Linked DNA regions of Homo sapiens: all the other regions are linked to region 2. Evidence: fine-mapped expression QTL. A gene starts in region 2. Each other region holds a variant in brackets. All regions are shown on one strand. Distances are from middle to middle. Region 1 overlaps SETDB1 (SET domain bifurcated histone lysine methyltransferase 1). Region 2 holds the start of CTSK (cathepsin K). Region 3 overlaps CTSS (cathepsin S).

Region 1 (4,241 bases), 140 kb after region 2:
TTTGTTTTGTTTTGTTTTGTTTTGTTTTTTGAGACAGTCTCACTCTGCCACCCAGGCTGGAGTGCAGTGGTGCAATCACAGCTCACTGCAGCCTCAACCTCCAGGGTTCAAGTGGTCCTCCCACATCAGCCTCCCAAGTAGCTGTGACTACAAGTGCATGCCACCACACCTGGCTGATTTTTGTATTTTTAGTAGAGACGGGTTTCGCCATGTTGCCCAGGCTGGTCTCGAACTCCTGAGCTCAAGCAGTCTGTCTGCCTCATCCTTTCGACATACCAGGATTATAGGTGTGAGCTATTGTGCCCAGCTGTCATACCTCTTATACTCAGTATAGATATCTGTTGCTCCTGTAATTCCTTAAACAAGGAGTATATATTTTTCATTGTTGTGTTCCTGATACCCATCATGGATCCTGGCACATACTTTATTAAGTAGATAAGGAATTTTTTTTTGGGGGGGATGGAGTTTCGCTCCTGTTGCCCAGGCTGGAGTACGATGGTGCAGTCTCGGCTCACCACAACCTCCGCCTCCCTGGTTCAAGCAATTCTCCTGCCTCAGCCTCCCGAGTAACTGGGATTACAGGCATGCGCCACCACACCCGGCTAATTTTGTATTTTTAGTAGAGACGGGGTTTCTCCATGTTGGTCAGGCTGGTCTTGAACTCCCAACCTCGGGTGATCCACCTGCCTCAGCCTCCCAAAGTGCTGGGATTACAAGCTACAGGCGTGAGCCACTGTGCTTAGCTTAGACTAAGGAATTTAAGGCTCATCAGGGAGGATTCCCAGAGGTGACACATGGTATATATCCTCTACACAGGACAGGATAGATTCTAGCCTTTAAGCTATTTCCCTTCATTCTTTTCTCTCAATTCCCCAGGATGACAAAAGATGTGAGTGGATCTATCGAGGCTCTACACGGCTGGAGCCCATGTTCAGCATGAAAACATCCTCAGCCTCTGCACTGGAGAAGAAGCAAGGACAGCTCAGGACACGTCCAAATATGGGTATGTCCTGAAAGATTCCTGGAGGAAGGAAGAAACAGGCCAACCAGCAAAGGAGATTATATACAATGGCTATCCTTTGATTAGCATGGTTACACTGTATACTCATTGGAAACAGGATATGTGCCCTGAGTTGTTTCCAATCATGGTGATCAATTTGTGCTGCTGCTTCCACATGCTGTGGCTCTAATTTGTTCTAAACAACCACATAAAAATCTGAAACAGTTGGCTTTAGGTTAGGGTGATAGTAGTTACCCTCTGTTATCCACATGAGAATTGTCAGTTTTGTGTGTTATCTATGGTTAGTTTTTTCTTTTTCTTTTTTTTTTAAATAGACCCGGGGCTTGATATGTTACCCAGGCTGGTCTTGAACTCCTGGGCTCAAGCTGTCTACCTGCCTCGGCTGCCCAAAGTGCTAGGATTACAAGTATGAGCTACCACATCCAGCGTATAGTCAGTTTTCTTTAAAACCCAGACCTGGCCAGGCACAGTGGCTGACATCTATAATCCCAACACTTTAGGAAGCTGAGACAGGTAGGTGGTTTGCTTGAGCTGAGGAATTCAAGACCAGCCTGGGCAACATGGTGAAACCCTGTTTCTACAAAAAAACACAAAAATTAGCTGGGTACAGTGGCATTAAGCTGTAGTCCAGGCTACTCAAGAAGTTGAGGTGGGAGGATCAATTGAAGCCAGGAGGTCGAGGTTGCAGTGAGCTAGATCGTGCCACTGCACTCCAGCCTGGGTGACAGAACGAGACCCTGTCTCAGAAACAAACAAAAAACAGATTTGGTTTTCTTTTTTAATATTACTGTCATACTTTCTGGTTGATTTTTCCTGCCAAAATTAGTTGGTTAAAGAATATATTTCTGAAAATATTTCCCCAAAGTATAACATAATTAGGTAAATCATCTGAGATAGGAAGATATAAAGTCTTATCTAAGGCCCAGCATGGTGGCTCGTGTCTGTAGTCTCAGCACTTTGGGAGGCTGAGGTGGGAGTATCACTTGAGGCCAGGAGTTGGAGATCAGTCTGGGCAACATAGAAAGACTCTTATCTCTTAAAAAAAAAAAATGCTGAGTGTGGTGGTGTGCACCTGTAG[C/A]CTTAGCTACTCTGGAGGCTGAGGCAGGAGGATTGCTTGAAGCCCAGGATTTCAAGGTTACAATGAGCTAAGGTCACACCGCTGCACTTCAGCCTGAGTAACAAAGTGGAACACTGTCTATAAAAAGAAAAAAAAGAGGCTACTCTGCCGACAGAGTAGCAATTTTTTTTTTTTTTTTTTGAGATGGAGTCTGGTTCTTTTGCCCAGGCTGGAGTGCAGTGGCACCATCTCAGCTCACTGCAACCTCCGCCTCCCGGGTTCCAGCAATTCTCCTGCCTCAGCCTTCCGAGTAACTGGGGTTACAGGCGACTGCTACCATGCCAGGCTAATTTTTGTATTGTTAGTAGAGACGGGATTTCTCCATGTTGGCCAGGCTGGTCTTGAACTCCTGACCTCAGGTGATCTGCCCGCCTCAGCCTCCCAAAGTGCTGGGATTAAAGGCATGAGCCACCGCGCCTGGCCGTTATTCTTTTATTCCTTTACTTTGTGAATAAACTTGCTTTCACTTTAATAAAAGAAAAAGTATTATCTAAGTCAAAAAACAATGTATGCCAGCGTCCATGCCAGTCAATAATGGGAACTGAGAGTCTAAGCACTTACTCAAAATGTGTCCATTGCTGCTTTTTTTTTTTGAGACGAAGTCTTGTTCTGTTGCCCAGGCTGGAGTACAGTGATGTGATCTCGGCTCACTGCAACCTCCACCTCCTGGTTTCAAGTGATTGTCCTGCGCCTTCCGAGCAGCTGGAATTACAGATGTGCACCACCATGCCCATCTAATTTTTGTATTTTTAGTAGAGACGGGGTTTCACCATGTTGGCCAGGCTGGTCTCAAACTCATGACCTCAAGCAACCTGCCCACTTCGGCCTCCCAAACTGCTGGGATTACAGGCAAGAGCCACTGCGCCCAGCCATTGCTTCCTTTTTATATTGTATAAGTTAAGGATCAGATGTGTGACTGAATACAAGCGTCATAGCTATCATCTTCTCAGTGCTCAATTTCCTTTTTCCTATAGGTGCTGTGAGGAGCAAAGGCCCTGTTGTCCAGTACACACAGGATCTGACCGGTACTGGAACCCAGTTCAAGCCAGTGGAACCCCCACAGCCTACAGCTCCACCTGCCCCACCTTTCCCACCTGCTCCACCTCTATCCCCCCAAGCAGGTGACAGTGAGTGAGTGTTATTCTTTCTTTTTCTTCAGTTTCTTTCATATTATATTTTCCACATCCCTTACTATATGCCCTCTTCTCTAATCTCCTAGAAGCTTGGAAAGCCAGCTTGCCCAGTCACGGAAGCAGGTAGCCAAAAAGAGCACGTCCTTTCGACCAGGATCTGTGGGCTCTGGTCATTCCTCCCCTACATCTCCTGCACTCAGTGAAAATGTCTCTGGTGGGAAACCTGGGATCAACCAGACATATAGGTGAGAAAATCTGAGGCTCTCTGTAGGCAGGATAGCAATGAGTGGTCACTGTGTAGGGGAAGGTTCCTTGGCTGTAAGCGAAGGGCTTAGTTTAAGCTTATGATAGTGAGGAGTTTGGACTTGAAAAGGAAGCTTTACCCATAGAAGTTCCTAAGAAATAGAAAGTAAGAATAATTGAATTGGAAGCTGGGTGCTTGGAAATATGGTATCATCTGAAAGCCATTTGTTAAAACTTCTTGTTGAACATGGTGCCATCATTGCTAAAATAGAAAGGAAACACCACAGCCTCTTTCCTTGGAGTTAGTAAGGACATTTTTAGAACACGCAGCAGACCAAAAAAACATTGGTAGAAGACTGGATTCTACTTCCATAATTCACAGGCAAATACATTTTAGGAAAAGGTATACTGTTGAAATAGAGATGTTAGGCCGGGCGCGGTGGCTCATGCCTGTAATCCCAGCACTTTGGGAGGCCGAGGCGGGTGGATCACCTGAGGTCGGGAGTTCGAGACCAGCCTGGCCAACATGGAGAAACCCTGTCTCTACTAAAAAATACAAAATTAGCCAGGCGTGGTGGCGCATGCCTGTAATCCCAGCTACTCAGGACGCTGAGGCAGGAGAATCGCTTGAACCCAGGAGGCAGAGGTTGTGGTGAGCCAAGATCGTGCCATTGTACTCCAGCCTAGGCAAAAAGAGCGAAACTTGTCTCAAAAAAAAAAAGAGAAA
Region 2 (4,228 bases):
TGGAATTAAGAGCCTGCAAGAAGAGATAATATGTAAACAAATACAACACAAAGCTCTGGAGAGACAGAAAAATTGCTTATAGATTAACAGCATTAATCTTAGAACTCTTCCCAAAAGAGAAATGTAACACACTTATAAAGCAAAGGAAGGATACAGTTTGACAGAGGATGATTTGAAGCATAGGAATGAAAACCGTATGTTAACATGAGTTAGGGAAGAGGGACTGATTTGCTTGGAATAAAGCATTTGGATTGAAGAAGGGAGTCTGGAAGCTAAGATGAGAGAGCTCAGGTCTCAGCCTTCCTGCCATGCCCCCTCCAGGACCCCAGGCACCTTGTTGTTATATTGCTTCCTGTGGGTCTTCTTCCATAGCTCCCAGTGGGTGTCCAGTATCTCCTCAGGGTACAGAGCAAAGCTCACCACAGGTAGCAGCAGAACCTTGAGCCCCCACATCCTGCAGAAGAATGTAGTTAGGGAAAACTCTTCCATTTGGCAGGGAAACAGAGGAAAACTAGGCTTTATGAGGAAGAGAAAGGTAGACGGAAAAAGGGTGATAAAACAATGATAGTCAGGAGGGGCCTGTGTTTAGATAGGATGCTGGTACATCTGGTTCCAAGGACTTTGATCTAGGGGGATTTAGCCATTTCTCTCTTTCTCTCTCTCTCTCTCTCTCGGGAGATTTAGGCAACACACACTCTCTCTGTTTCTCTCTCTGTCTCTCTCTCTCTCACACACACACACACACACACACACACACACACACACACACACACGTACACAACCAGAAATGGGGGATAGAAACTGGACAATCAGAATGGGCTCAGTGCGTTTCCTCCAGGGTCCCTAGCAGGCTTGGAGACAGACAAATAGCAAGGTGGTAGTGGGGTTCAGAATACACAAAGGAGAGATTTCCGTCTAAGTTTTGCCTCCTGATCATTTCTTCGAGGCGTTCTTCTCTTTCGTGCCTAAATTCTGGTACTTTCCCAGATCTTGTCAGAAGAGGACAAGGGAAAATAGGACAATGTTTCCTGTTTTCTGAGACATTGTATATCTCCTCATTCTCCTTATGCATTTCTTCTTCCTTTTTCTCTCCCTTCCCTCCTTAGGCAGGAAACTGCCCTAATCTTAACCAGATGCTGCGGGCAAGGTTTTTTATTTTTCCCCTAACAACAAAAACCCACTGTGGCTGCCGCAAAGGACAAGAAGCCTCAGATCCAAGGTTTGTTAGAAGAATGTTCAGACTGAAAAGCAATGTTCTATGATGATGAAATTCACAGCTTTTCATAAGTTTACTCTAGTTAGCTTCACTCATTTCTTGCATTGGCTTTCTTAATTACAAATCCTCCATTTTAAGAACAATTTGCAGCCTGCAGCATGACATATGGCTTACACAATTGCTTATAGTCCATTTACATGTAATTTTGCAAACTGGCAAAATGTCCAGTAGGACATTTAAAAACTAGAGTGTTAAGGGCTTTGAGATGTCTCAGTGAACAGGAAGCACTGAGCTACTACCTCCCCATACCACTCTCCTCCTCCTCACTAAGGAGTTAACCGTTTTGATCCTTGTTGGCCAAAGTAGAAAACACTGCAGAAAGGCCACTCTTGAAGGATGGGGAAATGATTCCCTATATACTTTGCTTTTACTAACAATCATGTATGTATATATATAAATCATACAAGGAATTCTACAGATTTCCAGGCAGATTTTATTTAGCCAGGGAATGACCTAAGAAGTGCATCTCTGTTTTCATCTGCAGAGGCTAAAAGTTTATTGTGATCCTCAAGTCACTACATCCCTAATACTCAGAGAATTGACAGGAATGAAAAGCTAAAAGATCTAGGAAGTTGCAAACGTTACCTGCTGATGGAAATCTGTTGTCTGGCTTCGTTTCGGCAGCAAAGTGTGGGCACACCATCAGGGGTGCTAGATTTATTCCATCGGGATTGCGGAAGTCAGCTCCAGTGATCGGCTGGAAAATTTGGGTAAGAGGAGGAGGCGGGGATAGAAATGCTGAGAGAAGGAAGGGTAGGGAGGAGGGAAGGAGGCAGTGGATTTGCAGTGTTTCTGTGTGTATGCAGCATGTGTGCCAGGGTAGGGAATTACTAGCTATTTAGTCTCACAAGACTGTCTTTGGTGGCAAATAACAAGACCTCAATATCTATTGACTCAAATAGGAGCTTACTTTCTCTTTTGGTGAGTAAAAGGAAGGACACAGCCCTAGTCTCTCCCATCCTTCTTCTTCAATATCTTTATTTTAATATTGGGGGATTATATCTTTTCCTACCCCTTTCCTGTTAGGATTTACCTCTCCAACATTGAAACCTATTTTCATATTTGTGTCTGACTCTCACCTCTGGGATGCGGTAATGAACATAAAAGGCTATAAAAGAATAATGTAATGGAAGCCATAGGCTCCAGAATTCTTTGTATTTTTATAAGCTTGTTGGTTGCAAGTTGTCATTACTTCCAGGCAGAATAGTTTTCCCAGCCTAATGTGGTTTTGCTGAAGGAGGATATGCCCAGAAAGTCCAGATGAAACTGTCTTTAAAAGTAACCAAAAACAGCAGTCCTGGTTATTTATGACAGCACTTGAATCAATGCCGTAAGTTCTGATGGACTCACATGTGACTCTGTTGCTAAAACTCTCAGGTGGTGGGATGCCCGATAAACATCATCTGTCTCAATTAAAATCCCCAATCTAGGACAAGTCACATGAGCTTCTCCAAATGCTTCCCCAACATCCAAGCATGTGACAGATCATAAGAATCTAGCTGATTCCTCAAACCACACCCCAAACTTCATTTTCTTCCATAAACAGATGTGGGGAAGGAGAAAAAAAGGCTTCTTGGAATAGAAAGGATAATAAATGGGATCTGTAATAGACTCAGTTTCTAGCTGGATTCCATGCATAAACCCTCAAAAATACAGGCTTATGCCTCTGGATTTTAAGAGCTGCTAACAGGCTAGGCGCAGTGGTTCACGCCTGTAATCCCAGGCCTTTGGGAGGCCAAAGCATGTGGATCACCTAAGGTCAGGAGTTCGAGACTAGCCTGGCCAACATATAGTGAAACCCCATCTCTACTAAAAAAAAAAAACACAAAAATTAGCTGGGCATGGTGGCACACACCTGTAGTGCCAGCTACTTGGGAAGCTGAGGCAGGAGAATTGCTTGAACCCAAGGGGCAGAGGTTGCAGTGAGCCAAGATCGTGCCACTGCACTCCAGCCTGGGTAACAGAGCGAGACTCCATCTCTCACACACACACACACACACACACACAAAAAAAAAAAAAAAAAAAAAAGTTGCTAATGAACCAACATAGTCTCCTAGAGGGAAACCAGGTCCAGACTTGAACAGTTTAAATTTCACTCATTTTAATCCAGAAAAGGACATACTGGGGGAAGGCATCCAGATGTGCCCTAGTGGTTTTCAAGTCCCGACTCTTCCCCTCTCTCCCAAGAACCCAGGCAACGCCCACCCCAAAACCCCCACCTCATGGTCAGAGCATTCCTGCTGATGTTACTCAGAATGTGTCAGGATCAGGAGGACAAGTGAGGGGGGAGGCGTGCAATGTGATCAGAACCCTATGATTTCTGATTCCTGAAATTAAAGACACAATGTGCCTTATGTTTGTATGTCTGGAGCTTAAACTATAGATTCCTCTGGTTGTGGGTGCCTGTTGTTTATGAACTGGAAAGGAATGATAAAGCCGCAATCAAGATCACACAACACAAGAAATTTTACAAAAGGAAAAAATATTTTGTTTGAAAATCTTTGCTACATGTCATTATTTTTGCCACTGTAAAGCTTAGCACAGATGCCAGCAATACAGAAATGGCCAACAAGAAAACAAAACAGTCAAAAATAAAACCCTGAAGGAAAAGCAAAAACAAAACCCCCAGAGCATCTTCTCGCTATCCTCCCCTTCCCCAAAAGCCCTATAATAACTGTACAATATTATAGTCCTGATCACATTTAAAAAGTCGATTATTAAAAAACAAGGGTTCCATTGGAAACTCAACTTTTTGGTTTCGTAAATTGTGATATAAATATATATGTATACTGTAAGTGTGCACATAGAATAAAAAAATAAACTGTCTCCTTTTTTACTCCACTACCTGGCACCAGACTGGAGACATAAGGAAGGGAAACTCAGCAAATGGACATTCCTTTGGCCTCTTCAAGGCCACCCTTGCTCCTCAGTCCCCTATGACTACATTTAATA
Region 3 (4,241 bases), 57 kb before region 2:
TTCCTTGTTTTTTAGAGACAGGTTTTCACTCTGTTGCCCAGGTTGGAGTGCAGTGGTATGATCATAGCTCACTGTAACCTCAAATTCCTGGGTTCAAGGAGTCCTCCTGCCTCACCCTCCCAAGTAGCTGAGACTACAAGTGAGTGTCACCATATCCGGCTAATTTTTATTTTTATTTTTCGTAGAGATAAGGGTCTCGCGATGTTGCTCAGGCTGGTGTCAAACTCCCAGGCTCAAGCAATCCTCCCACCTCAGCCTCCAAAGCTAGAATTACAGGCATGAACCACCGTGCTCAGCCAATATCCTTTCTTTCTTTCTTTAAATTCTAATTATTGTTTATTTTATTTTTTACCACTTCTGTAGAGGAAGAAAGAAGGATGACGCGCATCTACACCAACAGACACTGGGCCTTTATTGGCCACAGCTTCTTTCAGGACATCTTCTCTGCCATAAGGAAGTTCAGTGTACTTTGAACATGTGGCAGCACGATATTTTGAGTCATATTGACATTTCTGATCCTGCAAAAAGAAGTATAAATATGATGAAGTATACTTCAACTCCTGTATAAATCACCTGTATCCTAAGCCTGGATTTTAAATGTCTCCCTTCCTTTCTTTAACTTTTTCATGTGTCTAAGGCTCCTTCCTTTGCAAATCTTCCAAATCCTAACAGTCCCGGGTTTCAGCAATAATGGAGGAAATACAGAACTATTCTATTCTTTCAAATTGTGAACATCCTCATACATGCAAAACTTGCCAGGACAATGGCCCCTCAGACTTTCAGGTGGACTGTAGGGAAATATTACATAGAGATAATAAACTCTAGATGAGAGCTTTAAAATCTTTTTGATGCCTGCAAGATGATCTGCAGCTAAAATGATGGTATATAAAGACCATATAATATGGGAAACACAAGTATTTCAAGTGGGAAAAGGAAAGTTACAAATTCATGTTTGTTGTATATACAACTATTTTGTATTTATTTATATTATTTATTTTTTTGAGATAGGCTCTCACTCCATTGTCCAGGCTGGAGTGCAGTAGCATAATCATGGCTCACTGCAGCCTCCAACTCCTGGGCCAAGTGATTCTCCCACCTCAGCTTCCTGAGTAGCTGGAACTGCTACTCAGGTGTGCACCACCATGCCTGGCTAATTTTTTTGATTTTTAGTAGAGGTGAGGTCTCACTATGTTGCACAGGCTGGTCTCAAACTCTTGAGCTCAAGCAATCCTCCCACCTCGACCTCCCAAAGTGCTGACATTACAGGTGTGAGCCACCACACTTGGCCAACTATGTTTTTTAAGTGCTTAACAAGAAAATAACTTGAAAGAAATAAACCAAAACAATAGTGGTTAAGGTAGAAGGTTTTTGAGTGATATTTTTATATTTTTAAAATCTTCTGTAACATGGACACAATCCTTAGGTTATCGTTATATCAAAATGTATAATGAATTTCTGAGGAAGAGGAGAGTGTTATTTAGCTTCTCAGTGGGTGGAAGAATGATGTGGTTAATGATCTGAGAATAAGGTTGAGCATGGGAGGCTGCAGAAGAAAAAGTTTAAATACAGAGAAATAATTTTAAGGATAGTTTGCTTAAAATCTGTTTAATTTTGGGATGGAGTCTTGCTCCGTTGCCGAGGCTGGAGTACAGTGGCGTGATCTCGGCTCACTGCACCTCCACCTCCTGAGTTCAAGCGATTCTCCTGCTTCAGCCTCCCGAGTAGCTGGGACCACAGGCATGCACCACCATGCCTGGCTAATTTTTGTATTTTTGGTAGAGACAGGGTTTCACCACGTTGGCCAGGCTGGTCTCAAACTCCTGACCTCAGGTGATCCACCCACCTCGGCCTTCCAAAGTGCTGAGATTATAGGTATGAGCCACTACGCCCAGTCATTAAAATCTGTTTTTAAGCATGAATGCTACTTCCTTATTTGTACTACTGATATATTAAGAAGAGTACTTCATCAGAAACAGAACTCTTGAGAATTTAAGAATTCCTCTTCAGGGTTCTCTCTCACACACAATACTGCTTCTCAAGCAATTGGCATGGTGGCAAGCCCAGCACAGTCAGTCAGTGGATAACATGAGATCATGGGGCAGCACAAAAAGTTTGCTTAAGACGCACCATGGCTTTGTAGGGATAGGAAGCGTCTGAGTCGATGCCCTTGTTATCAATGATGTACTGGAAAGCCGTTGTCATGAAGCCACCATTGCAGCCTTTGTTTCCATATTTTTCAGTTGAGCAATCCACCAGGTTCTGGGCACTGAGAGACACCAGCTTTCCTGTTTTCAGCTTCAGCTGTGCTTCCAGGGCCCCCACAGCACTGAAAGCCCAGCAAGCACCACAAGAACCCTAAAACAGATACAAGGTCACAAACGCAAATCACAGAAAATCATTC[G/A]GAATGACTTCCATAACCCAAACTGGACAACGCTCAGCTACATCAGTTCTGTCCCTAGTTCCCAGAAAGAGCTCCCCCACTACAGTTTCCTTCTGTCTTTAACAATGGGAATGAAGACTAAATTTAACTCAATTGTTATCTAGGCAAGGTCCAACCTTGATAGAGATTTGCAATCAGCCAAGCTCAGAACATAATGGCCATATTCAAATATACTTAGAAACAATACTCACTGAGCATGTACCAAATTGCACCTATTTTCACCCATAAGTAAGGGAGATAGTTGCCTACAGTAATGAGATTTTGAGAGAGCTAGGATGATTTCCTTGACCTAAAATACCCTTTCTCCTGTCATATGATGCCTGAAACATAAGAAGTTTAATCCTAGGTTGGCATTTTTCAAACCTTTGTTATCTTCAGAATTTTTTTGATTAAAAAATATTTTACAAGGAGGCATAAACAAACAAAAAAAGGCAAAGCTGCTTTAGTTTTAAAAGGGGCAGAGTGTCCAGAGCCCCATCATAATTGTTCTCTTTCTCTCTCCTTCCCTCCTCCCACCTTGCTCTCCACCAAAAGGAAGCAAACTGACATTGCTTTTGATTGAAGCAAAATTGTTCATTAAAATGCAAGCACCCAGAGAAAGGAGCTCATTAACTTACTCAGAGTTAACATCTAAATATGTGGTTTATTGGGTCTTCTAAAAGCTGTTATTTTAGAGAACCTCGGGTAAGAAATCCAAAACTAATTGAAAGAAAAATATGTAGGTGGAAAAGAATAAGAGATTAGCAGTACCATTTACTTCTTTTTGTTTGTTTGTTTTGAGACAGGGTTTCCTTCTGTCACTCAGACTGAAGTGCAGTGGTGTGATCATGGCTCACTGTAGCCTCAACCTCCCAGGCTCAAGCGATCCTCCCATCTCAGCCCCTCAAGTAGCTGGGACTACAGGAGCGCACCATGCCTGGCTAATTTTTATTTTTATTTTTTGTAGAGTCAGGGCCTCACTATATTGCCTAGGTTGGTTTCTAACTCCTGGGCTCAAGCGATCCTTCTGCCTCTGCCTCCCAAAGTGCTGGAATCACAGATGTGAGCCACTGTGCCTGGCCACCATTTACTTCCTAATAAATTTTTACTTTCTTCATTGATCACAACCTGGGGTAGCTGCTCAGAATGCTTTGATTCCTCTCACTTACCCTGACCTCTATGGTGATACATGTGTTTTACCTCTAACTAATTTAGGATTTTTGCAATTTTTTTAAAACAAGCAAACTAAAGGAAAATACAACAGCATAGGAACAATAATTTTACAAGGCACATATTTCATATTCTAACGATGCAAGACTAGCCATGAATTAACTTGAGTGGCTCAATTTATAGAACACTCTATCTCTAGTTCTTTCTTCTCCTTCAACTTTGAAACTCACAAGTGAAATGGAGAAACTTCCTGATCACCAGGGCTCTCTCACACAACACTGCTTCTCAAGCAATTGGCTTATTGGAGAGTCCAGTGCAGTCAATGCATAGCGTGAGCAATAAAAGTCTGTGTTAAACACCTATTTGCTTAGTTCAGTGTTTGTCTAAGTAGGTGGCTCTATGATCACTTAGAAAAGCACTGTGGGGGCTGAACACGAGGGCTCATGCCTATAATCCCAGGACTTTGGGAGGTGGAGGTAGGAGGATCACTTGAGCTCAGGAGCTTGAGATCAGCTTGGGCAACATGGCAAAACCCATCTCTGCTAAAAATACAAAGAAAAAAAAAGTGGTGGTGTGTGCCTGTAGTCACCGTGTAGGCTGAGATGGGAGGATCACTTGAGCCCAAGAGGCAGAGGTTGCAGTGAGCCCAGAT

What was found. PIP is the estimated chance that this variant, and not a neighbour inherited with it, causes the effect.
Region 1: its variant is the best candidate, but not a certain one, in a credible set for the expression of CTSK in whole blood (INTERVAL, PIP 0.76).
Region 3: its variant is the best candidate, but not a certain one, in a credible set for the expression of CTSK in whole blood (TOPMed, PIP 0.69).

Annotation. Positions count from the first base shown.
Region 1 is chr1:150,946,010-150,950,250 of GRCh38, forward strand. It overlaps SETDB1 (SET domain bifurcated histone lysine methyltransferase 1), which reads left to right. Exons shown (of 22, transcript NM_001366418.1): 10 at 877-1,003; 11 at 3,113-3,269; 12 at 3,358-3,516. Among named protein-coding and RNA genes, the nearest start is that of SETDB1, 22 kb to the left of the region's middle. RefSeq lists an enhancer at 3,955-4,099 and a cis regulatory region at 4,027. The variant C/A (reference allele first, on the strand shown) is at 2,100.
Region 2 is chr1:150,806,353-150,810,580 of GRCh38, forward strand. It overlaps CTSK (cathepsin K), which reads right to left and starts at 1,908. Exons shown (of 8, transcript NM_000396.4): 1 at 1,862-1,908; 2 at 334-454. The coding sequence starts at 453. It overlaps ARNT (aryl hydrocarbon receptor nuclear translocator), which reads right to left. Exons shown (of 22, transcript NM_001668.4): 22 at 3,361-4,228.
Region 3 is chr1:150,749,654-150,753,894 of GRCh38, forward strand. CTSS (cathepsin S) reads right to left here. Exons shown (of 8, transcript NM_004079.5): 5 at 2,128-2,355; 6 at 353-518. Among named protein-coding and RNA genes, the nearest start is that of CTSS, 14 kb to the right of the region's middle. RefSeq lists an enhancer at 1-103. The variant G/A (reference allele first, on the strand shown) is at 2,402.